4 linked regions of the Homo sapiens genome follow. The protein of the gene in region 1 purifies or fractionates together with the protein of each later gene. This does not show direct contact. Each region holds a gene or a part of one and is shown in the gene's direction. Other genes may lie near its edges.

Region 1 (7,640 bases):
GGAATTGTTCATAAATATGCATGGATAAAAATAGATTGTGGAGTATAGTGAGCGTGCTTGAGTCATTTCCACCCTGAAGGTGCAGGATTGAAGCCTGTTTCATGGCTTGTAATAAATTTATAGATGCTATAATCTTCATTTCCAAGCCACTGTGTGATAAAAGCCCCCATCCTGCTTATAGAGTACTAATAAACAACCTTTCTTTTGTCAAAAAGCGAAGTTTAATGCAGCGGTATGCAGCTAGTTCTCCAAGGGAGGATTACACTACATCCACACTGGTAATTGCTGTTCAGGCTGTTTTCCAGGTTCATGCTGTGCTGTATGGGCATATGTAAGAGTTTGAAATTTTGAATGTTAAAAATTTATTTTATTCCTAATATCACTGTTAGCCCAACTGAAATGGGAAGACTAAAATGTTCATTAAAACTCTTGAATGTAAGGGAGTTGTTCTGCCAAATCTTAGTTAACAAAGCTATAGCAATATAGATTTGATTATGAATTTTAAAAATAAAATACAGATACAATTTTCTATTATAAAAGCAATACTTGGCCAGGCACAGTGGCTCATGCCTATAATCCAAGCACTTTGGGAGGCCAAGGAGGGCGGATCACCTGAGGCTGGGAGTTCAAGACCAGCGTGACCAACATAGAGAAGCCCCATCTCTACTAAAAATACAAAATTAGCTGGGTGTGATGGCGCATGCCTGTAATCCCAGGTACTCAGGAGGCTGAGGCAGGAGAATCACTTGAACCCCAGAGGCGGAGGTCACGGTGAGCTGAGATCATGCCATTGCACTCCAGCCTGGGCAATGGGCAACAAGAGCAAAACTCCATTTCAAAAAATAAGTAAAAAATAAAATGAAAGCAATACTTGTTCTTTAGGAAACAGTTAAAAAATAGAGAAACATTGTGAGGAGGAAATATTAGCTGTAGTACCATAGACTGAAGCAGCCACATGAAGATTTGTGAGGTTGTTTTTGTTTGTTTTTTTAAGGTAGCTTTTCTCCTCACTGTTTGTTTCTCTCCCCGCCACCCGTATAATAATAATACCTTGGAGGCATGTTGTATATTACAATGTCTAATTCTTTTAAAGCAGTGACTTCAGAAGAAAATTGAGCCAGATTTTTCATTCATCAAGTGAAGATCCATTTAGTTGATCTGAATCTAATCAGAGGAGCCCATATTACCTGCCTCTGTGTTGTTAATTGGCTTCATAGGAAGCACCACCTTTAGAGTTCTGAGTAGAGAGAGCTAGCACTACATGCATGCCTGGGAGAATAGCCTACAGATTTTGCTGTCATGAGACTATTTAGTCAAGTGAGAGTATATAAAATACAGCCTCCTTAATTGTGTTAGTTAATTCATAATACTTATACATTGCCACCCTGTGTTGTTATCACATAGACTAATAATGGTGTTAAATAGAAATCCAGGCCTAGAAATAAAGATGAATTTGTTCAAAGCAACAAAAATATTTTTTATTTCATTTGTGCTTTCTAATTCATTCATTCTGAGATCTTGTGAATTGAGAGTAGGTTTCACCTATGACACAAAGTGCGTCTCATCTTTTACCTGCTAGTCCATCACAGGTGGACCTAGCTTGTTTTAGTCAGCGGTTCTCAAGTATGTCCCGCACCTGCAGTATCAGCAGTCTTCTGGAACCCTGCTAAAAATGCAAATTATTGGGCTTCATTCAGAACCTACTGAATAAATCTCTGAGGGTGAGCCACAGGTTGTTCTTAGGTATGCTTAAGTAGGAGGACCACCGATTTAGGTGACTCTAGCTGTGTAGAGGCTGTTTTTTTTTTTTTTTTTTTTTTTTTTTTTTGCTAATCTGATGCTTTTCTAATGGAACAGCTAAATTCTAGAGGTTATTAATTCTTAATAGGCGCTAGTAGATAAGTGAAAGGATTTGCTATCATTTCACTATTTATTCTTCATACTTAAGGCTTTCAAAGTGAACTTACTCAATTTACCTGAAATGAAAAATGAAACCCTGCAATTTTCTTATTCAGCCATCAGGTGGTAATAATGTGCAATGCATGCTCTTTAAATAGAAAAGGTAAAGTGATAGGGGCTGTCTTAGATACGCATATGTGGAAAAAATGCTTTGTCTACATTAGAAAATTCTTAGTCATTGACCTTACACAGTATTAATTTTAAAGCAAGTAGACCTTCTTTCTTTTTTTTTTTTTAAGCTCCTCCAAGTATGATGGTCCAGTGCTCATTTACTTGCCAAAAAAAATTTCCCTGCCACTGCTTATCTCATGATGACCAGCTGTGGTCACCCCACTAGCCTGTTCACGCTAATTAAATGGAATAAGCTGGGTTTCCCTCTACAATTTTTCATAACCTGGAAAGGTTCTTGGCTATCCTTTCCCATTTGTGTCTTTCACACTGGGGAGAATGTGGGGCAGGGAGTGATCTTCTGTAGTCAGGAGTGATGCTGCTGAGGTCAGAAAGCTTTGATGCTTTACTTCTAGAAATTTATTTATTTTTAAAATCTACGTCTTTTCTTTTTCTCCATATAATATTTTTCTGTAATAAAATATAGCTAGTCAGAAGCACAAGAGAGCTTCAGAGAACTGGAAGAGCATTTTCAGGCATTTTTTTCCTAAAGGACCTATATCCTATGCAATATTATTAAGCTGAATATATTATTTAAAATTTCAACCGAAATGTCTTTCTACCACAGTGTATGTATTTTTAGCATAGCTTTGTAGCATTTTTAGCAAATTCTTCTTTCTGTTCTCCTTGTTTCAAGGACAGGAACTACTGTGTCCCTCATTTCTGAGCTGCTTATCCAATAGCACAAATTGAAAAATGGAACTCCGGTACACTATTGACATTAAAAGAGTGTACGGGAGGGAGGTGGGAGAGAGAGAAAACATGGACATGCTTGTGTTTTCTTGTCTTAGCTGATTGGAATGCATGTGATAATGGGTACTCAGATTATGTAAGTGACACGAATTTTTCTAAAAATGCAAAATTGTGATTCTAAACTGAATGGCTAGTAAGTAAAGGGGAAAGTTTCCTCCTGGTGTGATTTTGTGGGAAATGTTATATGTAGGTGAAAACATGTTCTTGAGAAGGAAAAATTAATGTGTCCTTTCTTCTCTCCTTCCCTTCTCCTTCTGTTCCCTCTTTTCCAAATCTTTACTCAAATCTACCATAGGCATATCAAGGGGTGTAGGGTTTATTCGATTTGACAAGCGAATTGAGGCAGAAGAAGCTATCAAAGGCCTAAATGGCCAGAAACCTCCCGGTGCCACGGAGCCAATCACTGTAAAGTTTGCTAATAACCCAAGCCAAAAAACCAATCAGGCCATCCTTTCCCAGCTGTACCAGTCTCCAAACAGAAGGTATCCAGGACCGCTAGCTCAGCAGGCACAGCGTTTTAGGTAAGTCTGGTTTGGTTCTTGTGCCCAGCTACTAAACTGAAAGAGAATACTCAGGTTTACTGTCCAGTACTTTTATTGACAGGATCTCTGGTTTGCTTTTGTCAGTGTTGTTGGTTTTATTACTATTAATTTTTCATCTCCATGGGCACAGAGAGAATCTACTTGAGGAATAGTGTCTTTTGCTAATATTGAAGGTGGGGACCAAAGGACAGTAACCTACAGCAGTGATTCTTAACCAAGGGTGATTTTTGCCTCCCAGGGAACATTTGGCAATGTCTAGAGGTATTCATGTTGGCACAACCTGTGGGGGTGCTACTAGCATGTAATGCTAGAGGTCGGGGATGCTGCTAAGCTCCTACAGTGTACAGCATAGCCCCAGCAACCAGAAGTTACCTGGTCCAAAGCACCAATAATGCTGTGGTTGAGAAATTCTAATCTGTAGCTTTCTGGGGTTATCTGAATTGTTTCCAGGGCTTCAGATTTCCTTTTTTTTTTTTCTTAAAGGATTTTATTCTCATGTGTCAATTTTTAGGTCAAGCTGTTTCTGTTACTTCACTTTATAGTATGTGCACCATTAAGGGTATATAACCTATGTGACTACGTGAAGTTTCTACAAATGAGTTCCTCTCTTCCTTTTCAAAATTGTTTACAAACAGGTTGGCAGACTTTCTCTGTACAGTACCAGATAGTAAATATTTAACTTTATGGGTTATGGTCACTGTTGCATCTGTCTTGTTTTTGTTTTTAAACAACCTGTTAAAAATGTAAAAGCCATTCTTAGCTTATAGCCCATACAGCAACAGGTGGGAGGCAGTCTCCATTTGGCCTGTCGGTTGTAATTTACTGACCTCTCTGTAGTTCATAGAATGACCGTGGCTTTAGCCCAAAGAAGACACTCTATCTCACTGACAGGTGTACATATGCTAACTGTTTAAGTTTTATTCTGATCCTGGGATAACAAACCAGGAGTCATTCAAAAAATCTCTAATCTGCATGTGAGAAGAACAGTGACTTTAAGAAGTTAAGCAGAGCAGAGAGTTTTTGGTTTCATAAGCAAGTCATGCAGTTTTTATTTTCCAGGACATTTTTAAATATCCTTTTTGGCCATATGGTACACTATACCCAGAATGCTATCTAACCCCACACTGATTTTTAAAAATTATTTCCAAGTGCATATCAATTTTATTTATTTCATTCATGGGACAGAATAGTTAATTACCAAAAATATAATCACAAATATAACCTAATAAGATCAGGAGTTATGTTTTCTAGCTTAAATCTATGCATTTATTTTTTTCATTGGAATATTTGCAGTGCTGAAGAGAGTGGAGATAAAATCAGTTAAAAATAGCTCCTTTTAAAAAAATACTAAATTATGTTGCTTGAGATATGAGAAGGAAATTTGTTATGAATGCCACATTAAATTTCAACTTAAGTTGGCCTTTGCCGTGGGAGAAGAGGTGGTACTGTCAAAAGCATTGAGCCTTGTACTTCATGCTCTGCTGTGAGGAAAAGGCATTGGTATTAAAAAAAAAAAAAAAAAAAAAAAAAAAAAAAAAAAAAAAACCTTTGCCACCTTTGACTTCCCATGGTAGTGGTGATCAGACTAGTGTGGGAGATGCGTGGGGCTGCCTGATGCTTGCCTTTGTGGAGAAAGAAGTCTCACAAAGAAAGCCCTTTTTCAGCTCTGCACATAGGTTTCCTCTGTGACATCTTAAGTGAATAATATATGTATAAATATACTTTTTTAAATTGCAAACGTAGGATGAACAAGCCTGAAGGAATTTTACAGGTATTTCCTAGGCAGCTTGTCCAGTTAATTTCAGAGCTCTTTGGGGCCTTGAAAATGATCTCGAGTTTAGATAGAACAAAGTTCTTCATAATGTATTGGTTGATTTTTAACATTGTGAAGTTATAAAATGTTTGCTGTTAGTGGAAAGCTATATTAGCTACTTTTTTTTTCCAGATTGAAGCAATGATTTTGTTTGATAGTTATTAAGTAAAACAAAGTTCTTGGAATCAAGATTGAATTCTTAGGAAGATTGAGAAGACAGGATTTGGGAGAGTGCCTGATTATTGAAATGGCAAGGCTTGTAGGTGACTCAGGTGCTAGGTTGTTGATGGGTGTCAGCCCTTAGGTTTACCTAGCCTCCATCCCTGCAGGCTCTGTGCTTTTTATTTTTGGTTGAGTAAAGCTTTACAGGATGTTCTTATGGTCAAATTTAATTATCTTTTTCTGGCCCATTCTGTGTTTTTATCTTTTAGTACCATATGTTATCATTAACTTGAAAATTCTTTTTCCTTCACTCCTATAGAAAGACATTTTGGAAGAAGAGAATAAGAGATTGTCAGTTGTAAGGGAAACTTGGTTTCAGAAAATGGGAGAAATTGTTATTCTCTCTTCAGATTTTTAACTGTTGTCCCATTCACCCCATTTCTCATTCCTCCCATGATCCCTGTCCAGATAATAAAATATGAACGAGTTAGTGTGCTCAGAGATAGTGTTTGATCTAGATTGGGTGTGTTGGAAGAAATCAGATTTCAGGTTTAACCTGATGTTTGATGCTTTTCTTTAATACAGTATATTGAACCTGGTTGTCATTATCTTGATTTCCGCCCCACTCCCCCTTCTTCTTTCACCTGATAAAGAAACTTGAATTAAGGGCTTGCTTGTTTTGTTGGTATTTTGCTGTTTTCTGTAGTTCGAGTCTAAATCATCACACAGATATATTTTGTCCCTGATATTTGTGTTTTAATGCTCTTGCCTTGAGTTTTTGTCACCTTTCAGCAGACATGTAGAAAATTTCTCACTGTATTTTTATGTTCTCATAGTACCTTGGGAGTTGAGAGAGATTGAGCAATATAAGTTATATGTATTATGGTCAAGAATACTTTTAATAATCATAAAGTATGAGCCATATCTTTTATGGTCAAAAAGCTTAAAAATCCATGTAATAAGGGTTAAGTTTAAAGGTGGGTTTGTGAGGTTTATGGCTTAGTCAATCTATGAATAATCAGAGAATTGTTGTAATATGAGCACTGCTGGTCTAATACGCTTATTTAATTGACTGCAGTTTTCAAAATAGGACAAGCCTTATTTATTTGGATGGATGGTGTAATTCAAGCCCCTTAAGTATATTCTTGGGACATGATATCAGAATTAAACTTTAAGCCAAATTTTTTCATGTTCTTTTCTGTGAAACAGCTATAATTTTATTGAATATGATCTAGTGTAATGACCTGTGTGCCTGCTTCTATGAGCCTTTATGCATTTTTTAAAAAGCCTTTTAAATGAGCACTTGAGTTGCCTTTAAGGCATGACGTACTGGTTGCATTATCACAATTTCCTTTTGGAAGAAACCGGTATCAATCCCCTTGAATACTTTTCCTCTTTCTTAGAGGACAGATGATACCATCTAATTGAATAAGGCAGTAAGGCAGTAAGAAGATGATCTTGTTGTAGATAATTTCCAAGCAGTTCTCGGTTGGCGCTTTGGAGAGATTTTGATAATCATTATTTGTGGGATTCCGAGTATATTTTCTTACCCATCAATAACTTATCTTCCTATTTTTATTTCTGACTTTAATCGGGTTCACATTTCCCCTTACTTACATGTAGGCCTTCCCATAGTCCATCAGCTAATTTTTTTAGAAATTAGGCAGGTACTTTATTTTTATTTTCTACTTATGAACACCTAGCTTTAAAATAGGAATGATCTGATACATGGTTCTGTTCAAAATTTTGACAGGTTATAATTGGAGCTTTGGTCCTGTTGATAGAAAAATGTTTATACACATCTCTCTCCTATGTGCCTTTTTCATAAATTACATATGTACATGGGCGTGTGCTATTCATTAAATTATAAACTCTAATCAAACATAAAAAAGGATAAAGATGAGACAATCTGTATTAAATGTCTTGCTAATTACTATACTGGTTGGCTTCATTTTCCATGTACCTAATATCTTAATAAATGTCTTTTAAAGCAAGACCATAAAATAATTTCAGATATCTCATCTGACTTCATGTGATGCATGTTGGATTATCTTGTGTCTAACCTTATAATGTAGCTTGTACTAAGAGTAGGAGAAATAATCGGCTCTCCCTTTCCTTATTTACTTGTATTTCCCTTACTGGTACCATTCTTTACTCTGATTTACATTTGTAGTAATCTTTTTTTAAGTTACTTTTTCTTTAAATGGAGGTCATTTTAATTAAAGCAGGTTATCCAGTCTAAT
Region 2 (7,640 bases), on another chromosome or scaffold:
TTAGGTAAGAATTAGAGATAATATATGTAAAATAACTTAATGCAAGTTCTGGCATGTAATAGGGCACTCAGTAAATCTAAGGGGTTTTTTTTTCTTTGTTAGTGAGGGGTGGTAGAGAGAAATCATACTTGGTTGGCATCTCTTCCAGTTTTGTAAGGATACCTGATTTAGTCCTTTTAGAGTGGCATGGCTATTGACATAGAAGTAGTGACGTGAGTTTGGTCATGTGGACCAACAGGACTAAGGTAACTCCACCCTTCATACAGACACCCCCACATACTCACTAGTACCCAACCCAGCACTAGTCTTTTTGTAGAACTGTCTTTGAGCCATCCCCAGTCTTAACCCGATCATATGCGTCATTCTCTGTTCTAAGACTTCTAGGCACACATTTTTGTGTTCTCTGGCACATTTGTTATATGCATATGAAGTTGTGTTCATTTTGTTTTGTTCCCTCCCTTTTATCTGGTATGTCAAAATGTATTTGTTCCTGTACCTCCTGTTTTGTTTCTCTGGTTGGATGTGTCTGAAATATATGTGTCATTGGAACATCTTTTTATTAATAGAGGTGTCATCATATAGTTCGAATCTCATTTGAATTAACTTTATATGGTCATTTGATTTCTGTGTTTTATTTTAATTTCATTAAAATGTTGGATGCTTGGGTTTCCAGATGAACATAAATTATAAGTGTTTCCCCAGTGGTTTGTATTATAAAAGTGAAAACCTTTTAGTTGTGTCACAAACTCCTGGGCTCTCTAAGGAATGCATTATAACATTGTCCCTCCCTTCAACATCACCCTCCTAAATTGAAATTCGTCCCTTTGGCAGAAATCTCTCCAAAGGAAAGTAAAATATATCACTTGTGATCTGAGATCCTCTGTTCCCTATCTTTTTGTTTTTCATTCAAATCACTTTTCCTCTCCCTACTGCTGCAGATAGCCGGGATGAGTATATATTCTTTTCAACTATCACTTCTCATTTCATTTCCTACCCAGTATGGTTGGGAAAATCTTAAAATTTCAAAGTAGATTTCAAAGAATAAAAATTTAGACTTTTAAGTATATTGGTATCATATAAGAAAAGCTAGTATCCTAAAACTAAACTTATTAGACAGGACGTATGTTAATATTCCATTTTCCCTAAAATATCATGTTCATATTTTTCCCTAAATTATTTCTTCCTTTTCTAGGAATACACCTGTTGCACACATGATAACAGAACTGTGTTTTCTGATACATTCGATTCTGTATTTACTAGTTGTGTGATATTAGAGTTCTACATGGTTTCATTTTTGTGATAGATTGTAACATAGGCCTTAGGCACTCAGTCTGCTTTCCTTTTTCATTTCTGTATGTTCTCTATTTTAGGTCATGGAGTGGTTCAGTATTTTAATGTAGCATCAGCTATTTATGCAAAATACAAATTACATGGATTTCAGTACCCTCCTGGGAACCGAATAGGTGTTTCCTTCATTGATGATGGAAGTAATGCAACAGAGTAAGTACCATTCCAGGAGTGTCTAAAGCCGAGCTTTGAGTGTACATGATTGATAGGACTTGAAGAATAAAAATAGAAACAATTGACCTCTCAGGTGAGAAAGTCACACAAAACAAGCTACTGTTAAAAGACTGAATATTTTTAGTTTTCTGTAAATTATCAGTTATTTTTTCCAGTCTCCTTAGAAAAATGGCAACACAGATGGTAGCTGCACAGCTTGCATCAATGGTGTGGAATAACCCAAGTCAGCAACAATTTATGGTAAGTAGGTAAGAATTTAACCTTTATAATATATCAATAGCATATAAAATAAATGTGAAGAGAAATCATGCTTTGTTGATTATCTGTGTATGAAAATTTTCAGAGCTATTGTGGAAGACCACATAGATGCCATGATACATATCTGTCTTTAGCTCTTGGCCAAAAATCCCTAAAGGGCATTTTTTTCTTTTTCTTGTTTTCTACCTGTTAACAGCAATTTGGAGGAAGCTCTGGATCACAGTTGCCTCAAATCCAGACAGATGTTGTACTTCCATCATGCAAAAAAAAAGCTCCTGCTGAAACTCCTGTGAAAGAAAGACTTTTTATTGTGTTTAATCCTCATCCTTTACCTTTAGACGTATTAGAAGATATATTCTGGTAAGAAAGTTACATTTTTTGTTATATTTTATTTACACTAGTAATTTAATTATTCTTATAATCTAGACACTTCCTTCACCCAGTACCTATCAAGTAGAGAGTATTAGTTCTCTGCTTTTAAAACCTCCTTATTTGTATCATCTTTTTCAATTTCTGATTATTTTCTTCTCTTGTTTATCAGTCACACATCCTAAGGCTCCATAGAGAATTTCCTGCTATTTTGTTTTTGAAACATAAAGTGGGCCTGGTGCAGTGGCTCATGCCTGTAATCCCAACACTTTGGGAGGCCGAGGTCAGGGGATCGCTTGAGCTCAGGAGTTCAAGACCAGACTGGGCAATATGGCAAAACCCCATCTCTACAAAAAATACAAGAATTAGCCAGGCATGGTGGTACATGCCTGTGGTCGCAGATACTTGGGAGGCTAAGGTGGCAGGATTGCTTTTGCCCAGGAGGTCGAGGTTGCAGTGAGCCAAGATTGTGCTACTGTACTCCAGCCTGGGTGACAGAGTGAGACCCTTTTTGTTTTTTGTGTTTTTTTTGCTAAGCATCTTCTGTTTTGTTGGTGCATTGTAGGATCCTTAAGGGTTATGCAGTCGCATTGTGTAAACAATTACTTGATTGTAGGGAAAAATACATAAATGTTTTTTATAATAAAAAAGGGAAGGTTCTTATTTATTTTTGTGTTTTTAACATAACTCCTTTCTTTGCTTTTTCTTTTAGGCCTTTTTCCCATTTGCCTTACAAGAATGTTAGTGAATTTGATAGACAGGAAGCTTGTTAAAGAGCTGCACAAAATATCAGGGACATAATGTGATAGTATATTGAGGCTCAAAAGGAAAAAAATATCAGGATATGGTTCAAGTATTTTGACCTTTATTTAACTGATATATTTAGTTTTCTTCTTGAACCTCCTCTTTGTTCAAGGCAGGAACTGTGCTAAGTACAAGAGACATGTAAACAAAATATTAAATGGACAAGACATTATGATTCTTGTCCTCTTAGAGCTGATCTCATGTAGGAAACAGACAAGTAAACAGAAAATTACAACCCAGGGTGATTGTTGCTGTGATAAGGAATGTGTAAGATACAAAGGAGGAGCAGTTACCTTAGAAACTCTGAGAAGCCTTGAAAGAAGGAAGGTGTATGTGGAGACCTGAAGTATAAAAATAATTTCTCCACAGGTGAAAGCTGGGGGTATGCATGGTTATTTCTGCCATAGAGAATGTAAAAGAAGGGCTGTTAAATAGGGAATTTGAGAGATTGTTAAGGAAGATGAAACTAAAGAGTCCAAGGACAATGTCAGAACGGCTCTAGAGCTATATTAAGGAATTTGTTGTCACCATGGAGGCAATGGGGAGCTGCTGAGGGGACTTTTAGGGAGTAAATGATCATATTTATGTTTTAGAAAGATCACTCAGAAGACAGAGTGAAAAATGGATTGAAGAGGGACAAGCTCAGGGGTAAGGAAACTAGTGAAAAAGGAGTTAGATTAAGGAAAAGATGATGGTCTGAATGAGAAGAGAGATCTGAATGAGAATGAATAGAATTGACTGAGATGTTTAAGATTGACATGAGTTGGATGTTGGATCTGGGGAGAAGGGTGAAAATGGAGTCAAGAATGGACTCCAAATTTTAGACCTGAGCAGTTGTATTTATCAATTTTGGTTGATTATTTTTTTCACTTTGTTTCAGTCGTTTTGGTAACCTGATCGAAGTTTACCTTGTGTCAGGAAAAAATGTGGGGTATGCCAAGTATGCCGATAGAATAAGTGCTAATGATGCCATTGCCACTCTACATGGAAAGATTCTGAATGGGGTGAGACTTAAAGTTATGCTGGCAGATTCGCCAAGAGAAGAATCTAACAAACGGCAAAGAACTTACTGATTCTTGAGGTAAGCCCTTTTTAATCTGAATTTTAAAACATATTGAGTAAATAGTATATGAGGAATATGTGTAAGTACTTTATAAACTTTTCTTTTTAGTGATTTAGAAGTTGTCAGTTAAAAGAGCTTTGCAACTATTTAAACTTTAAAAATTGTTGACATTTACTGAAGAATGTTTTTGCCCTTCTGTAAAATAAAATCACATTTCAATTTAGAAAGATAAATAATTGTTTTTTGTTTGTGAAATCTTCGATTTTAAGAATTCAACTTTTTATTATGTGCTTATATAAACTTTTAAGTTGTCCGGTGCTAGAATAAGGATTGCTTTAAAAAAAAATTGAAATACTTCTAAAGATTTTTAACTTGAAAAATTGGTGTCTTGAGTTATGAATTGAGGTAATTTATAACAGTCGTTTATAAAGATAATGTTTTGACTTCTCTCTAATGAAATGCCTAAAAAGCAATATCAAATAATATATCATTTTTGGACCTTTTGAACCTAAATGTTGGTGTTTTCTGGACTTGTATTTGTGAGTTTGTGCATTAAAACAATACATTCAGAAAATATTCTCGTATGCATATATGTATTTTTTAAGAAAACCTGACAATTTACCAAAAACTCTTTATTGTAAATTTTGATACATACAGCCATATGAATTCCATTTCCTATTTTATTTATTAGTTTTCAAAAATCAAACTACAATTTATTTGACTGTGACAGTGAGTTTATATCTGTGTGGTTTGGGGAAACATTCCTTAAAGTTTGACTTTTTTTTTCCCCCGAGACGTCTCGGTCTGTCACCCAGGCTGGAGTGCAGTGGCGAGATCTCGATTCACTGCAACCTCCACCTCCTGGATACAAGTGATTCTTCTGCCTCAGCTTCCCCAGTAGCTGGGACTACAGGCGCGTACCACCACGCCTGGCTAATTTTTTGTATTTTTAGTAGAGGCGGGGTTTCACCGTGTTTCGATCTCCTGACCTCATGATCCGCCCGCCTCGGCCTCCCAAAGTGCTGGGATTACAGGCATGAGCCACTGCGCCTGGCCTAAAGTTTGGCGGTTTTTATTCTGTAAAATAATTCTGAATTTCAGGGGAAGCCGTTTTCCTGTTCCCACACACTAACTTTCCAAGTCTACTATAGGTCAAATGTAGTAGATGGCAGGCACTTTGAATTCAGTTTGAAGTTACTGGCTTGAAACCTTTATTTTTTTCACTTAAGATTTTCTTTCTGACCAATTGTGTGAGCTAGCACGTATGAGAATGATTCCTGCCAGGCCTCACTGCTGATGACCCTTCCTCTCCTAGAACAGATCACATGATTAGTTCCTCCTTCATAGCTTCATAGAAGGCATTTGACAAGAGAAAGTGCCCATTGGGCCCATAATCCTAATTTTTAAATCTTTTTAAATGTTTTATTAAATGACAAAACCACTCTCATTGTACCATACATTGTTAGCAATTTAACCCTGGATATATTAAATTGGGAGTGGAAAAGAATTAGCAAGCATTTTTTCCTGTTTATGGATAAAATGTTAAGAATGAATTCTGTTTGGAGAAGCTATTCTCTAGCATGCAAAAAATGTGTTTTTTCTAGTCTGTGAATATTTCAATAATAGGAAATAAATAGTTCTTGCTTTTACTCAATAAATCTTTGTTCTTAAAAAGGACAATAATATAGACTTTAGACTTCTCAGTATAGAAAAGTATATAAATTATTCTTGTGGTTGAACCTTTTCTAATGATTATTTACATGTTAAAGAGAATATTGGGCTTAAAATAAAAAGCCATTTAACTGTGACTGGGCTGGTCTCTACGCCCTTTTTTTTTTTTTTTTTTTTTTTTTTTTAAACACAGAATCTTAGTCTGTCACCCAGGCTGGAGTGCAGTGGCCTGATCTCAGCTTACTGCAGCCTCTGCCTCCTGGGCTCAAGCAGTCCTCACAGCTCAGCCTTGCAAGTAGCTGGGACTACAGGCATGTGCCACCATGCCCAGGTAATTTTTTTTGGTAAGACAGGGTTTTGCCGTGTTGCCCAGGCTGGCCTTGAACTCCTAAGCTCAAGTCATCTGCCTTCCTCGGCCTCCCAAAGTGCTGGGATTACAGGCATGAACCACTGCGACTGACCCTCTTTGCCTTTTTGAGGCCCAGTTTTCTCATAGGGCTTTTGAGAGACAATGAGTCAACAAAATGTAAAATGAAAAAAAGGCTTTGCAAGTCTAAACTAAAACTCTTGCATTTGTAGCTTCAGTGAAACCTTTGAGATGTCCTCTTATCTAAAATAATGACATCCAAATGATCAGAAACTAAAAGTATAATGATATAAAACTACCTTGTGGCCAGTTGGTACTGTGAGAACTAAGCTTTATAAATACCACATTTTTCCCTTAAACTCATCCAATTTCCTACATCAGAGGAATTGCATTTTCAGCATGGCTGTTCATAAAAATTTTAATCTATCATTTTTCCCTTTTTTGAACTGTTACGCATATTCAGGGCAGAGATAAAATAGGGTCAGGTTAGTTGAAAATGGCTGTTTGGATAGGATACGATTAGCTACACGGTTTTGAATTTCTTCTAATTGCAGCATGGCTTTTTTTATTTTTGCTGCGGATCTCCTATTTACAATGGACTCCATTATGAGATTCTTCTTCTTTGTTGGTGTATTAAATAAACATATTACCTTATTTTAAGTTTCGATAAAATACTGTGGAAGACTTTGCCAAATTTTATATGATTGTGACAAGTTTTTTGGGGTAGGTGCACTTTTTTGTTTGTTTCTTTAATTTTTAAAAGGCTGCAAACACAGCTCATGAAGGCTGGTTTCTTTTATCTCTGAGGTATGGGCCTGGGATTAAGTGAGTCATGCCTAGGAAATAGAAGCAACTGATCCAAGGATATAACATTGAAAGTAGTTGAATTCTATTTTGAGATGGGTCTGATAACCACAATGTAATTCTCTTTCTATTTGAGGAAAATATAAATTTTAGTATTTCAGAGCATCAGATTTTTTGTTAATTCACAACACTTTCCCTCTAGAAATTCAGCACCTGCATCGCCCTTCTTAGTAAGTTTGGTTTTATTTGGGGGCAGCTATGATTAAGCAGATAACATTGGGTATATTGAAATAAAGGAACAATTCCTAACATTTTAGGAATACTACAACAGCTATTTCCTTTCCTTTCAGGTGATGATTTTCATACTTGTGTTGTGTTCTTTCTACAGAACAAAGACTAAATAATGACATAATCCTCAGCTGACTGACTGAAAATGTGACTGGACGCATTCCCTGTGGACAGTTGACAGCTTTTTTTTTTTCCATATACCTGATAGTCTGTGTACAGCATTGTTTTGTCTGGGAAGCAGGGATTGCTGACATGTATTTTTGAATCCATACATTAATGCTAAAACGAATATAGTAGTTGTTCCTTAGAGCAATATGTTGTTACGTGTAGCAGAAATAAAGTTTTCTTTGCTTAACTAAATCATGACTTATTTATGTGAAAGACAAGAACGGAAAAATTTAATAGACAGTCTTTAGAATTTGACTAAATGACATATGTCATTGATTTTGAGATGCACATCTTTCACATTTTAACACCCCTGAAAGTAGAAGCATC
Region 3 (7,640 bases), on another chromosome or scaffold:
CTTGTGGCATTATCTTGGTGAGGTCTGGCCACGACTCTGAGTTCTCTGAGCTTCTTGCTAATTCTTGGACAGTTCTTGCAAGGGTTCTAAGTGGGGGTGATGACACGGTGGCAGATAAGGAGACACTGAGTAGCCAGTCGTTTGAACCACAGTGGTGTGGGGTGAGGGCATGGGATTTCTGCACATTCTTGGGGCCTAGGTCTTGTGTCCCTCTGCCAGCTGCAGTCCCTGTGGCTGCGTCTGTGTGTCTGAGATGTTGTGAGCACAGTGGGGTTTAGCTGTGGCTGTGACGCTCACTAAACTGTGAGCTCTGGCATTGGCTTTGGGATGTCGGAGAGTGCACGTTTAGGCAGCATTCCTGTCACTGGTCCTCACTAGTAATAACAAAGATCCTTGATGATGATGGTTTCCAATACACGAGCCAGGTACAAGGCTAGGGGCTTCACATCTGTTATCTCTCTTTATTTTATAACTCTGCAGCCTGGTATTTCACATTTGCAGATGGGGAGACCGAGGCTCAGAGAGGTGAAGTGACCCTCTTGGCAGTCACACAGTGGGTGGTGGAGCTGGCCTTGGAACCTGGACCTGTTTTGTCACCCGAGGCCCTGCTCCTTCCAGAGCTCTGCATCCTTCTGAGGTTCCTTACCCTGGTCCCCTCCACAAACTCATTTTCACCTAAAAAAGGAGATAATCATGGCTTGCTTGTGGTTGTGAGGGGCTCAGATTGCCTGGGAGCTGGGCCTGTGGTCACTCTGTATCCATGTGTACTTGTGTGTCTGTGTTTGTATGCATGCAGGTCGTGTACAACGTGGGACTCTGCATTTGTCTGTTTGATATCACCAAACTGGAGGATGCCTATGTATTCCCTGGGGATGGCGCATCACACACCAAAGGTGGGTATCTTCTGTCCCTGGGGCATTGGGCTTCTTGGGGCTCAGTTTTCTGTAGCCAAAGGTCAAGCCAAATCCAGGTTCAGTGGTGCGTGCCTGTAAGGCTGAGGGCGGAAGGATCTCTTGAGCCACAGAGTTCAAGGCCAGCCTGGGCAACATAGCAAGACCCTGTCTTTAAATACATAAATAAAATATGAAAAAATTTTAAAAGGCTAAAGTCAAAGAGATGGCCAGAGGGTGGTGGGAGTCCTGGAGGCTGGGAGACGTGGGGCCTCATCCTGAATCGGCCAGGAATTGACCCGGTGACAGCGGCAGACTTCTCTTCTCTGGGCCTCTGTTCCCTCATCTGTGAGGCCTGGGATGTGGACTAGTTGGTTTTCAAGGCCTCTTCAGCTCTGACTTCATAGCTCTGTGTCTGTGCCCTTTTGGTCTCATTGCTACTGAGCCCTGCACCTTGTCCATTCCTCGGGCTTCCCGCTGCCTGTGGAGAGCAGACGGAAGGGGGATCAGCAGGCTGGCTGGGGGTGGGGGACTTGGATAGTAGGACACAGTAGGTAAGAGTGTGGCCTCAAGATTAAAAGCTGAGCTCTGCTTCTTACTAGCTGTGTGTCCTGGCTGAATATGTCATTGCTCTGTGCCTCTGCTTCCTTATCTGTCAGTTGCAGTTCAGGATGTCAACTGCAGTTTAGGATAGATTTTATATTCTAAGACCATTGTGAGGATTAAGGAGTTAATACATGAAAGCTCTTAGGACAGAGCCTTGGCACCTAACGAGCACTCAGTGACTTATCAGCGTGGATTGTTTCTCCCTATTCTGTCGGTCAGTTGGGTGGTTTTCCTCTCATCTGGCTGGCCTGGGGCTGGACAATCTAGGACGGTCTCACATTCTGAAGGTTGGCAGACTGGTTGGTTACTGGGGGCCTGGGCTGGGCTGGCCCATCTCTGCCCCACATGGTCTCATCTTTCAGTAGGCCAGGCTGGGCTTGGCGGTTTTAAGGTTCCAAAGTTCAGTGCGTAAGTACTTCTCAAGCCTCTGCTTCCATCCCGTTGGCTAGGGTGAGGGGATGGAGAAATAGACTTCACCTCTGGGTGGGAGAAACTGCAGTCACATTGCAAAAGGGTGTGCATCCAGGAATGGAAGGTGATCACCAGATCCTGGAAGGAGGGAGGAGTAGAGAGAGGACCACCCTGAGAGGAGCCAGGACCACCAGTCAAGGGAGGTGATGAGCCCCAGGAGAGGGGCATTCTTCATTCTCATGTCTGGACCAAACCAGTGTATAGGAGATGGTGAGAGGCCCATTGAGACGGTTCAGGCTCCCAGAGCGCAGGCGCCAAGCCTGCCATCCCTTGGGCACTCAGAGCGCAATTCTCAGCCTGCCCCAGGCCTCCCTCCGCCTGAGTCAGAATCTTGGGGGATGGGTCCAAATACTTTTTTTTTTTTTTAAGACAGAGTCTTGCTCTGTTGCCCAGGTTGGAGTGCAGAAGTGTGATCTTGGCTCACTGCAACCTCCACCTCCCAGCATCAAGCAATTCTCCTGCCTCAGCCTCCCGAGTAGCTGGGATTATAGGCACGTGCCACCACGCCTGGCTAATTTTTGTATTTTTAGTAGAGGGGGTTTCACCATGTTGGTCAGAATGGTCTCGAACGCCTGACCTCGTGATCCGCCCACCTCGGCCTCCCAAAGTGCTGGGATTACAGGCGTGAGCCACTGCCCCCAGCCCCAAAGACTGTTTTAACAAGGTACCAGGTGGTTGTCACACGAGCTCATGTTGGATAAGCCCTGCTGTAGTCCATACTGGTCAGCCTCTCAGCACAGAGATGCCAGAACATTCCAGAGTATGCTGTGAGACTGCCTAGTGTCTGTGTCCAGCCATTCAGGGAATTAATTAGTTCGCATGGATGTTACCATGGTACGCCGAGAGGCCGAAGAAACAGGCTGTCTTTGTACAGACTAGGAGCATTTTCATTAGCAGAGAAATAAGATTGCAGTGTGAAAACAACCACGAGGGCCTCTGTTTACAGAGAAGGATGCCGAGCTGAGCCCAGTCTCCGCATTTGGACAGGGGCCTTGGTTGTCCAGGAGACAAGTGGTAATAGGTACTAGAACTTCCAGAAAAACTTGGAGAAAAAAGTCAAGTTGCGGCCGGGTGTGGTGGCTCACGCTTGTAATCCCAGAACTTTGGGAGGTAAAGGCGGGTGCATCACCTGAGGTCAGGAGTTCTAGACCAGCCTGGCCAACATGGCAAAACCTCATCTCTACTAAAACTACAAAAAAAGCCAGGCACGATGGCTCACTTCTGTAATCCCAGCACTTTGGGAGGCCGAGGCGGGCAGATCATGAGGTCAGGAGATCTCCTGGCTAACACGGTGAAACCCTGTCTCTACTAAAAATACAAAACATTAGCCAGGTGTGGCGGCAGGCACCTGTAGTCCCAGCTACTCAGGAGGCTGAGGCAGGAGAATGGAGTGAACCCAGGAGGCGGAGCTTGCAGTGAACCGAGATCGCACCACTGCACTCCAGCCTGGGCAACAGAGTGAAACTCCGTCTCAAAAAAAAAAAAAAAAAAATTATTTGGGTGTGGTGGCACATGTCTGTAATCCCAGCTACTCCGGAGGCTGAGGCAGGAGAATCGCTTGAACCCAGGAGGCAGAGGTTGCAGTGAGCTGAGATTGTGCCACTGCACTCCACCCTAGGCGACAGGGTGAGACTGTATCTCAAAAAAAAAAAAAAAAAATTAGCCAGGTCTGGTGGTGTACACACCTGTAATCTCAGCTCCCTGGGAGGTGGAGGTGGAGGCAGGAGAATCGCTTGAACCCAGGAGGCCAAGAACACGCCGCTGCACTCCAGCTGGGTGACAGAGAGAGACCCCGTCTCAAAAAAAAAAAGTTGGAGGAAATTCTGTCTATTCAATTGGAAGATTTCTACTGCTGGCTTTTATTAGCCCCCACCCTCATCTGTCCTGAGTCTCTGTTTTCTTGGGAACCAGGTGGGAGGCATGGAGTGATCACAAGGACCTAGATTTGAATTAATTCTGGCTCTGGTCTCCTGGATGGGGACCTTGGGCGGGTACCTCTGCTTCTCTCGGCCTTGGTTTCCTCCTCTGTACAATGGGGTTAACCCTGCAGCTATAAAAGTCCTGTTGAGCACCATGCAGGGTGAACTGTGATTTTGTGGTGGGAACCAATTGCCATGCTTTGAGGCTGATGCCTGACCCCAGGCCCTGTTCCCACTGCTCCCTCTCCTGCAACCCCACAGCCTCACTCAGGGCTGTCACTGAGCCAGTGCTGAAGGGCTCAGCACCAGGTCATGCTGTGCCTTCACCTTTGCTCAGAGGAATATTTATTTGCCTGGGCCTTGGGAGCAGTTGCTTGACCTCTCTGAAACTCGGTTTCCCTATCTGTGCACACAGTATAATAACAGTAATAGAGCCTTCCTCCTTCATCAAATATCTGTGAGGAGTCAACGAGCAAGTCTGAGTGAAGCTGTGGTCTAGCGCCCCGCACGTGGGGAGTGCTCACAGATGATGGCCTTTGTGGCATGGGACCCTGACCCCCACTGGCCAAGTTTATCCCTCGACATTTGGTGCCAGCCCGTGTTCCCCACATCCTCCAAGCCTGGGACCTGCTGTACCCTGCCCCCGCCTGCCCCATACTGATCGGGGGCCCTGCTCTCAGTCTAGAGCAGCGCTCCTTTGTGACCACCTTTAGTTATTTATTTTTTAACATTTTTAAATGTTATATTGATTTGCAAATCGGGCAGCCTCCTCAGCTAGAGTTGGTGCAGAGACACCCCCCACCTTTTTTTTTTTAAAGCCTTTTTTTTTTTTTTTTTTTGAGACAGAGTCTTCTCTGTCACCCAGGCTGGAGTGCAGTGGCACCATCTTGGCTCACTGCAACCTCTCTGCCTCCCGGGTTGAAGCCATTCTCCTGTCTCAGCTTCCCGAGTAGCTGAGATTACAGGTGCCCACCACCACGCCTGGCTAATTTTTGTATTTTTAGTAGAAATGGGGTTTTGCCATGTTGGCCAGAATAGTCTTGAACTCCTGACCTCAGGCGATCCGCCCGCCTTGGCCTCCCAAAGTGCTGGGATTATAGGCATGAGCCACTGCGCCTGGCCTTTTTTTTTTTTTTAAACCTTTTTTGACATGTTTATCATTTATTTCATTTTTTTCTATTGTGGTAAAATATACATAACATGAAATTTACCAATTTAAACATTTTAAGTGTGTAAGTCAGTGGCATTAGGCACATTCATATTCTTATGCAACCTTCACCGCCATCCACCTCCAGAACTTTCATTTTTTTTAAGATGGAGTCTCGCTCTGTCGCCCAGGCTGGAGTGCAGTGGCGTGATCTCGGCTCACTGCAAGCTCCGCCGCCCGGGTTCACGCCATTCTCCTGCCTCAGCCTCCCGAGTAGCTGGGACTACAGGTGCCCGCCACCACGCCCGGCTAATTTTTTTTTGTATCTTTAGTTGAGACGGGGTTTCATCATGTTAGCCAGGATGGTCTCGATCTCCTGACCTCGTGATCCGCCCGCCTTGGGCTCCCAAAGTGCTGGGATTACAGGCGTGAGCCACCGCGCCCGGCCCACCTCCAGAACTTTTTCACGGGGCAGATATGGTGGCTCATGCCTGTAGTCCCAGCACTTTGGGAGTCTGAGGCGGGCGGATCACGAGGTCAGGAGTTCGAGACCAGCCTGGGCAACATGCTAAAACCCTGTCTCTAAAAAATGCAAGAGTTTTACTCTGTCGCCCACGCTGCAGTGCAGTGGTGCAGTCTCGGCTCACTGCAACCTCTGCCTCCCGGGTTCAAGCAATTCTGCCTCAGCCTCCCGAGTAGCTGGGATTACAGGCATGCACCACCATGCTCGGCTAATTTTGTATTTTTAGTAGAGATGGGGTTTCTCCATGTTGATCAGGCTTGTCCTGAACTCCCGACCTCAGGGGATCATCCTGCCTTGGCCTCCCAAAGTGCTGGGATTACAGGCGTGAGCCACAGCGCCCGGCCTGCTCAGCTAATAATTTTTGTATTTTTAGTAGAGACTGGGTTTTGCCATGTTGGCCAGGCTGGTCTCAAACTCCTGGCTTCAAGTGATCCGCCCGCCTCGGCCTCCCAAAGTTCTGGGATTACAGGCGTGAGCCACTGCGCCCAGCTTCCTTCCTCTTCTTGATGGTCCTTTAGACTCATCCTTTCTGACTTTCCAGGCATCCCCTCTGCAGGCTACACATCCCTAGACCTCCAGGTGGGGCTCTTGTGAGATGAACTGCAGATCCAGCACTCTCCTGGCTGACCAGCCTGTTGCTCTGTGTCCTTCTGTTTTTTCACTGAGATATAATTCACATACCACAAAATTCACCCTTTCAAAGCATACAATTTAGTGGCTTTGTATATTAAGAGTTGTGCAACCATCACCACTATCTTTTTTTTTTAATTACATTATCACCATTTTGCAACTCCTTATGAAGACAGATCTCATCAATGATCATTAACTTTTTAGCTTCCCCCAAAGAGAGACAAACAAGCATTATATAGTTCCTGGTGGAAGAACTCAACACCGATTATGAGGCAGTTCTGTTGCTAAACGCTAGGAGTTGAATCTGTTAAAAATTCTAGATGCAAGTTCCAGTTTGGAGGAACTATAGGAATGGAGGAATACAGTGACTGGCACCACAGGCCTCCAGGGGTTATGGTAAGTAGGCAGATATGAGCAGGGCAGGAGAGGGCCCCCTCCCACCAGGAACAACACCCTCATCAGCTAAGCCATCACCACTATCTAATTCCACAATTTTTTTTTTTTTTTTTTTTTGACAGAGTTTCACTCTTGTTGCCCAGGCTGGAGTGCAATGGCGCAGTCTCAGCTCACTGTAACCTCTGCCTCCTGGTTTCAAGCAATTCTCATGCCTCAGCCTCCCAAGTAGCTGGGATTATAGGCACCCAATACCACGCCTGGCTAATTTTTGTATTTTTTTAGTAGAGACGGGGTTTCACTATGTCGGCCAGGATGGTCTTGAACTGCTGACCTCAGGTGATCCGCCCGCCTCGACCTCCCAAAGTGCTGGGATTACAGACTTGAGCCACCGTGCGCGGGGCCATTCCACAGCGTTTTTATCACCCTACAAAGAAACCCCGCCCAGTAGCAGTCACTGCTAATCCTGTCCTTCACCCAGCCTCTGGCAGCCACTTAACTGCTTTCTGTCTCTATGGATGTGGTTCTGGACACTGTACATGAATGGAGTCGCACACTGTGTGGCTTTTGTGTCTGGCTGCTTTCACTTGGCCCCATGTGAAGGTTCAGCCCGAGGTTGAGCCACACTGTAGTGCATGTCAGAATTCCTTCCTTTGTAAGGCTGCATAATATTCCATTGTGTGTCTCCAGCATGTTTTGTTTACTCATCCATCCATGGGGGACTCCGGGTGCCCAGCATTTGCTTTTGGATGTGGTTGTTCCAGCCTGGGGCTCCCTGGGCGCAGGATCATGTGCTGTCCCACCCCCGTGAGCCCAGTGCCCAGACTGGGCCTGGCACAAACCTGGTGCAGGCTCTGTGAAGTTTTTTTTTTTTTTGAGACGGAGTCTTGCTCTGTTGCCCAGGCTGGAGCGCAGTGGCATGATCTTGGCGTACTGCAACCTCCACCTCCTGGTTCAAGTGATTCTCCTGCCTCAGCCTCCTGAGTGGCTGGGATCATAGGCACCTGGTACCACACCCGGCTAATTTTTGTATTTTGGTAGAGACGGTGTTTTATCATGTT
Region 4 (7,766 bases), on another chromosome or scaffold:
GCCAAGGGGCGGGCTCCACCCACGGACGCAGAACTGCTTTCCACCCTTCCTCAGCGTTACCTCCCTCTTTCTTCCTTGGGGGTTGGGGCTGGGGGCGAGCTGTTAAAGGGCAGGAAAAACGAGAGCGAGCAGAGGGGAACACAGTCCCACCCCTCAACCTCAACAAAACCAACGAGGGAGCAAAGGGTTATTTTCGCGCCACAAAAGATGGAAATCCAGGGGCGGCTCCGGGGCCAATGAATGAAAACCAGCAAACCGCTCTGGCGGAGGCGGCCGACGGCGATAGGTTCCCCCCGTCAGCCAATCGGAAGCGAGGAGAGGCCCCCGCCCGCAGCAGGGGCGGTGTCTCTCTCGACGCCGGTTGCTCAACTTGGACTCGGCAAGCCGGCCCCGGGGAGCGCGGGAGCCCCGCCTTGGAGCCGCTTTTGCGCGCCAGTCTCGCGGCCCGCCCCGCAGACCCGCAGGGTTCGGCGAGGGATTCTCCCCCGTGGGTACCAAGCATCCCTGGGCCCTATGGAACCCCTCGTGCACACACGCAACTGAGACCAGAGGTGCGGGAGGGTCGCCAAACACACGCTGCCCGGTGCGTCCCCGCGCTGGCCGGCGGACTCAGGTGGGGTGGCGCGGCGACGGCCCGGCCACACGCTCCGCGCATACGGACGCAGCCCCAGGAGGAGCCAGAAGCCCGCGGTCCCGCGGCAGGGCCCCGGGGAAGGGCGGTCCAGTGGTCCAGGCCCTCCGAGGCGAGCCGGCGGCCGACGAAAGACCCTCCCCACTGTGAGCCGTGAGGATCCCGCCCTCTTTCTCGGGGCAGAGCCAGAGGAAAAAGGAAACAACCCCATCTTCTCTCCCGGGGCACCATTTTTATTTATTTTAAACAATAAAATATAGGCAGGCAGCTTCCAAGGAGGGCAGATCCAGGTTATCACTTATTAACGCCTCTAGTTTAAACAGATCAGAGTCCAGGAGGGCCGTTCAAAAGCGCAAGAGCCTGTTAAAGCACCTCCGAGGAGGCCCAGGCGACACGCCGGGCATTGTGTGCCCACCCGCGTGAGGGGTTTCGGCTTGAGACTCCAGGCTGGTCCCAAGCCGGGCGTGAGGAGGGGTGGCAGCCCCCCATCTGCCCACTCAGCCTTTGCCCCTGACGTGTGGGTACAGCAACGGTAACTGGCCTTCTAAACATAGCTATTCTTTAATATTACACTGACCCACAAGAAACATTTGTACAGTCCTCAGTTCAGCAGATAAGGAGGAGATGCAGCTGTCCAAAGAGTAAACAGACTGCAATTGGAAAGACTCAGCCGCATCCCAGAGCACATAAAATGGTGGGAGTTCTTTCTTCGTGGAGTTCACATTAATTAGGAGCTACAACTGCTTCAGGAAGAAGCTGAAGTAGCCTATAACCAGTTGATTTGTGTGAGAGTCATTAAAAAAAAAAAACTGGAACTTAAATTGATTTTATATTCATTCTTGAAAATTCACCAAAGGTATCTTTGTACTTGAAGTGCTAGTGCAAGACAACTACCTAAGATCTTTTGACTCAACCCTTAAATGCTTGGAAGACTGGAAGTGGAGTGGACTGTATCCACCTCTCTCTTTGATGTCTGAGCTTGTATTACTCATGTATGTTTTTAAGGTCCTAGATGGACTATCCAGTTTGTTACAATAATACACAGATTAGGTTAACAGGAGTCCCAGGAACATATTTCATCAAAACACACACTTGTTTTAAATTCCAGCTGTTAGATTTGTTTGATAGTGCCAGACAAGCATGGACTAGTATTTATGGAAAATAAACAATTTATTCCATGCTTTAGAAGTAGATATTTCCTTAGGTCTCAGTTTTAATAAGAGCAAATACAGTCAACCCAGAAGCCATAGTTGAATTGATTTTGGAAGCAAGCTGAACACACACAATTTGTTTTTATGAAAAATTACTAAAAGTGTTAAATGATCAACAGGTTGTAAAATTTACAGTGGTATTGAGAAGTGCAAATATTACCAAATGAATGAATGTAGAACATTTCTCCAAATGGCTTTTGTTCTACAACAGGTACATTTAAAATAAATCCATAATTTTTGATATTTACATTTTGCATACCACAGAGGCCAAAAGAAAGAATACATTTCTTCTTTAGAACTAAAGTTATTTTTAAAAAAAGAAAAAAATGCTTTTAAAAAGTTCAACCTAACCATAAACTTAAAGAAAAATTTTACCAAAACGTTCTTTCAAGGCTGAGCTCTTAATTCAGTTACAAATACTGTAACAGAAAAACACGTCTGTCCCCCTATTTTATAAAGTAACAACATTTTATTAAATTAAACGTGAATGAAATTATTGTGAAAGTGTGTTTACGTTTAAAATGTTGGATTCGCTTGGCAGGAAAGAAAAACCTGTAAGAAAGAACAGTTGCATTTAAAATGGATGATCTGACACCTTCCGGTTCCTTAACACAAAATTACAAAGTAAGTTCCCTTTAAAAGACAAAATGTAAATACTCTTTATATCATGCAACAATTCCCATGTTTAAGTCTACCATTCATCTTTTAAATGAAAAATACACATTTTAAAATGCTAACAACGGTTTTGACAGAGAAGCAAGGCTGTATCAATTACCGAAGATGTTTCCAGTGTAAATCATAATATTTCCTCTATTCAGGATACCTTTTTTCTACCAGTAAGAGTACCAAGTCATTAAAGATTCTTGTCTATATTTTCATGTTATATAGAATTTCTTTCACTTAAAAAATTAGAATTTTCTATCTTTTCAATAGAATACCTGTTAAAAATATACCTGTTAAAAACACACAAGTATCTGGTGCAAATGAAACCTTTGAGTGGAGTACACAATCTTTAAACGACAGTTGGAGATTCCACTAGAACCCCAGCACTGCCTTCGTTTCCGTATTGCTCGTCTCCAGTTCACATTTTGTTGGCCCACAAGGCTCCACCGGGCCCAAATCCTCCCCCGACAACCACCATTGTACTCATTACATATAGAGAAAATTATGTATGGCTCTCATGGCCAAATCCAGGCAGAAAAGAGGCAGAAAGAGACTCGAACAATTTTTCAAATGCGAATACCACCTAGGGGTAATGCACGACGGTCTTCCAGTTTTAAGTCTCAAGTTCTCCAACTAAAATTACTTAAATAAAAGTACCAGCCTACTCCACTCCTCCCCCTTTAAAAACTACAGGAAGAGAGGGTTTCCCTTTACCGACTTTTCCCACTTTGACTTCTCTCCTCCAGCGGCCCAGGCCCCCGACGACCCCAGCCCCTAGCCAGAAACCTCCGCCCCTGCACTCCCCTCCCCCACCAGTGGCCAAGCCCGCCCCCGGCCTCATTTATCCTGGAGCCTTTTCTGAATCGCGCAACCAATGGCAAACGCGAAGCCGAGAGCCACCGCGAGCGCAGGCGGAGGCGGAGGAGGTGTCGCCCAGACACCCGCCCAGGACGCTGCGGGATCCCATCCCCCACCACTCCGGGGCCGGGCCGCCCCCACTCGCGCGGTGCCCAGGGCCCGAGAAGGGCGCACGGGGTGGGGCGCGTCGCCCGCCTGTCTTGCCCCCACCCCCTGCCCCCCTCACCCACTCCCCCACCCCTCCTCGCAGCATTTCCGTCCATGCCAGCCTTAGAAACGTGCCTGCGGCTTTGCTGGGGTTACACTTCTAATGCCATTAAAGCCACCAGGCGAGTTCGGGATTGTGACTCTGGTTTTGTTGTTAATAACCTATTTTGAAAAATCGAATGATTAAAACTACGGTAACTAGCGCTGAGGAACTGCCTGTTAGTACCTCTGCCCATTTCCTCATTAAAAAAAAAAAAATCAATATTCCAGCCCTCCCTCCCAGGATCCGCCCAGACCAGATAACCCTTTACAAACTCGAGTTGTGACCGTCAGCGCCCCGCTTGGTGCCGGCTGCGGTTCCTTTAGCATTTTCCTTCTTCCTCCTCCCCCTTCTCAGAGTCCCTCTCCCAATCTCGTTTCCCCTCCCCCTCTTCCTCTCGCTCGCTTTTTTCTCCGAAACCCACTCTAATTGAGGCTCTGGGATTCCTCACGTGAGACGTTGATTTGTAGTTTGAACACGTGGCTCATTCAAAAAGCCGGACACTCGGAGCGGATTTTTTCCGCCTCCTGCGCCTTCCTCCCTCCTCCTCCTCCTCCTCTCCCCTCCCTCCTGCCAGTCACCCTTCTGGGTTTTTTATGGGGAGGCGGCGCCTGCCTCACGTAGTGTGATATTTTCACAGTCCGCTGGCCGAAGCCAAAGGGGTTGGGAAGGAAGAGACAAAAAGTAGTTTTTTCCCCTCCTCCTCCTCCTTTCTCTTGCTAATCCCGCCTCCTCCTAAGACTTAGGAAGACTGGTGGATGCGTTTGGGTTGTAGCTAGGCTTTTTCTTTTCTTTCTCTTTTAAAACACATCTAGACAAGGAAAAAACAAGCCTCGGATCTGATTTTTCACTCCTCGTTCTTGTGCTTGGTTCTTACTGTGTTTGTGTATTTTAAAGGCGAGAAGACGAGGGGAACAAAACCAGCTGGATCCATCCATCACCGTGGGTGGTTTTAATTTTTCGTTTTTTCTCGTTATTTTTTTTTAAACAACCACTCTTCACAATGAACAAACTGTATATCGGAAACCTCAGCGAGAACGCCGCCCCCTCGGACCTAGAAAGTATCTTCAAGGACGCCAAGATCCCGGTGTCGGGACCCTTCCTGGTGAAGACTGGCTACGCGTTCGTGGACTGCCCGGACGAGAGCTGGGCCCTCAAGGCCATCGAGGCGCTTTCAGGTGGGCCCGGGCCTGGCCCCACCCGGGCTCTCGCCCCAGCCCTGCACCGCCCGCCCAGGCCCACCGGGTGGCTCCGCGGGCCCCAGGCCCGGCGCGCTGGGGGAGCGGGGGTGAGGCCTGAGCGCCCACACCCACGCGCGTGGGGGCCGGGGCTCTCCTCAGCTCCGGCTCCCACTCCGGCCCGCGGCTCTGCTTCCCCGGCCGGGGTTTGCTGGGTGAGGGCGAACGCGCTGTCAAGAAAGCCCCGGCGCTGGCTAAGGGGGGCGCGGGGCTGGGGGAGGCGCGCTCCCCCGGCGCCCCGCCCGGGCCCAGGCGCGTGCTCCAGGCCCCGGCACGCTGGGCCTCGGGGGCCGAGCTAGAATGCCCGCCTGTGCCTCGTTCCTTCCTGCTTTCCTCGGTCGTTATTTACGGCGCTGTCTGTGCTGCGCCCCGAAACCCCCGGCCGTGGAGAACGGAAAGTGGCCTCGACCGTGCTGCCGAGTGAGACCGCGAGGCTGGTGCCTCGCACAGGCGGCCCCGCGCTTCCTCCCCACCCTGTGGGAGGAGAGAGTGTGTGCCCGGTTTCCCCGTTCCACCTCCCCTGGTCCGACGAGCGATAGGGGCAGGTGGGCGGGGGCGGCTGGTCGCCTGGAAGGGAGTCGCCGCCACGCACCGGCCGCCCGCCGCTCTCCGGGCCCTGGCGCGGGGCTGCGGCCTCCGGGTATGGCTCCGCCAGGGCGAGGGACGGTGCCGGGCGGAGCAGGACGCCCAGGGGGAAGGCTGCGTTGGGGTCCCCATGGGAGCCCCGTGCCTTTCGGCTTCCCTTTTAATCAATTCAGACGTGGTGCGGGCGCCTCGCCGTCCTTCGCGCCTGGTTCAGCCTGTGCCGAGCTGCGCCTCTGCCAGTTCTCCCGTTCGTGGTCTCCCCTGCCGTCCCCGACCCTTTCTCGCCACTCCCTGTCTTCCTCAAGCCCACCGCTGAGTGTTCCCGGCGGGTCTGGGCTGAAGCAGAGGGCAGGGCCAGGGCGCCCCCTCCTGAAGAAAGCCAGGGGAGCCCCCTGCCCCGAGTCTGCCCTGTGGAGCGTGTCCAGGGCGGTGAGAGGGTGGGCCGCGTCCCTCTTGCGGGCCTCGTGGTGTTGGTGGCCCCCAGGGGTGGGTGGGGGAGGCTTGGAGACTGGACTGATACCCAAGTAGTGGGCCCGCCAGCGGACCCTGCTCCCCAACCATCTGCGAGTTAAATGCCCACGCCGCTCGAGGGGGTCGGCTTCTCCCTCCGCCTGGAGCCGCGTCCGGGCCTCGGGGGCCCTTCGAGGGCCTCAGGAGGCCATTTGTGTCGCCGCTTGGGCTGTGCGGGTCTTCGGGCAGGGAGAGCCGCTGAACTCGGCCGACCGTCTCACTTCTTGTGTGTCCGCAGGTAAAATAGAACTGCACGGGAAACCCATAGAAGTTGAGCACTCGGTCCCAAAAAGGCAAAGGTGAGCTGCTGCTTCTGTTTGCCCCGATTCTGTTCTCACTCCGTTATTGGGTGGAGAGACTCAGCTGAGAACTTCTTGTCCTCTGGTGCTTACCCCCTGCCGTGTGGCGTGGTGTTCCGGTCTTTAATCCTTGCTTTTAAGTTTATGGCGGGGGTGTGTGTGTTGATGATGCTGGGCAGGAATTGAAAGCTTTTCTGTGGCCTCTGCCGCGGGATTATGGTTATTGGTTACAAAATCTCTCGAAAGCTCACAGCTGAATGTCCTCGGTCCGAGCGGGTCAAATTGCTCCTACGGGAAATGGGTCCCAACAAGCAGTTTGGGGGGTTTGCAGGGCTTGGGAAGCAGCGGATGATTCCCCCACCCCTCCAGGAGCAGGAGAGGCGAAAGCAGCTGCGGACACGCGGGGGTCCCTCCTTTCCTTCTCTGTCCGGGGTTGGGAGGCCGTGGGCGCGGCCGAGTGGAGAGGAATTTGCCTCTGCCCTGTGAGCTCGCCAGGGGTATTGGAACGCGTGCGTAAACGCTGGGGCCTCTCTGGCCCAGAAGTGCCTTTGAGTCACTCCGAAGTTCTACAGGTTCCTGCAGTCAGCACCTTTGTCTCCCCGCTTTCCACCCCACTCCTCCTGGGTACATTTTTGCTTACAACCACCAAAAGATGAAGACAGGAAGATTCGTACTACTTAAGGACGGGGATTTCTCGTCTCCGAGATCATGTGTGTAGTATGTCGCTTTACAGAATGTTTATAGACTGTTTTAGCCTCTGAAGCATTTTGGAGACATGGCTCTTTCCCTTTTTCTTTTTCTTATGAAGCCTTATGGAGCAGTGGAGACTCCTTTCCTTTCGCTAGAGCAGGCCGGATTCCGGCTCTATTTTTTTGTTTTGTTTTGTTTTTTAAAACCTTCAGCCAACTCACACCATAGATTCCGGCTCTAACTGCAATTGGAAAGGCACTGCTCCCTCCCAGTCGCACCGGGGTGGGCCTCTAAGCCTTTCTGGATTTTGCATGGTGGGGTTAGGGTTTCTGCCTGCCCCTCTCCCATCCCCCCAACTCCCAACCTGAGCCAAATAATAAGCTGAAAGTTAATTTAAATCAGGGCTGCGTGTATCTGGTTAGATATTGGTGAGAGAGTGTGTGCTGGAGAGCAGGAGGGTTTGCTATGCATTTCTCTGGTGCTGTGCAGAAATAGATGGCTACAAAACATCTCATCTGTATGCCTGTGTAGATTTCAGCTCTCTTCCCAGGCAAAGCATTTTCACAAATCTTGTTTTTAAGGATGAGTTGGTTTGGATTTTTCTTGTTCTCATACTTAAATTTCATTAAGATAATTGAAAGGGATTTGAGTGACCTGATAGATTTAGTTCTAGTTGGGAATTTTGGTAGGGGTCACATGATTTTCATATAAATTGAGCTTGGTTTAACAAGAATTGAAAATCGAGGGAGAAGTCATATTCCCGTAAAAAGAAGCTTAAAGCCATAGCCTGAATTGGTTAGGAAAAAAACATAAGCCCATTTTACAAATTCTAAT

Evidence for each region.
Region 2: the proteins of ELAVL2 (region 1) and RBM45 purify together in Homo sapiens (co-immunoprecipitation; 3 studies listed by BioGRID and IntAct, with this or other methods). This does not show direct contact.
Region 3: the proteins of ELAVL2 (region 1) and POLR3H purify together in Homo sapiens (co-immunoprecipitation; 3 studies listed by BioGRID and IntAct, with this or other methods). This does not show direct contact.
Region 4: the proteins of ELAVL2 (region 1) and IGF2BP3 purify together in Homo sapiens (co-immunoprecipitation; 3 studies listed by BioGRID and IntAct, with this or other methods). This does not show direct contact.

Annotation. Positions count from the first base shown.
Region 1 is NC_000009.12:23,697,140-23,704,779, reverse strand, and holds part of ELAVL2 (ELAV-like protein 2), read left to right. Parts: intron 1-3,175; coding exon 3,176-3,401; intron 3,402-7,640.
Region 2 is NC_000002.12:178,122,152-178,129,791, forward strand, and holds the end of RBM45 (RNA-binding protein 45), read left to right. Parts: intron 1-1,370; coding exon 1,371-1,500; intron 1,501-1,676; coding exon 1,677-1,761; intron 1,762-1,975; coding exon 1,976-2,139; intron 2,140-3,832; coding exon 3,833-4,025; 3' UTR 4,026-4,033; intron 4,034-7,207; exon of another isoform or gene 7,208-7,245; 3' UTR 7,246-7,505; downstream 7,506-7,640. UniProt on the Homo sapiens protein: RNA-binding protein with binding specificity for poly(C). May play an important role in neural development.
Region 3 is NC_000022.11:41,533,952-41,541,591, reverse strand, and holds part of POLR3H (DNA-directed RNA polymerase III subunit RPC8), read left to right. Parts: intron 1-796; coding exon 797-893; intron 894-7,640.
Region 4 is NC_000007.14:23,466,958-23,474,723, reverse strand, and holds the start of IGF2BP3 (insulin-like growth factor 2 mRNA-binding protein 3), read left to right. Parts: upstream 1-4,232; 5' UTR 4,233-4,613; coding exon 4,614-4,788; intron 4,789-5,076; exon of another isoform or gene 5,077-5,148; coding exon of another isoform or gene 5,149-5,488; intron 5,489-6,181; coding exon 6,182-6,242; intron 6,243-7,766. UniProt on the Homo sapiens protein: RNA-binding factor that may recruit target transcripts to cytoplasmic protein-RNA complexes (mRNPs). This transcript 'caging' into mRNPs allows mRNA transport and transient storage.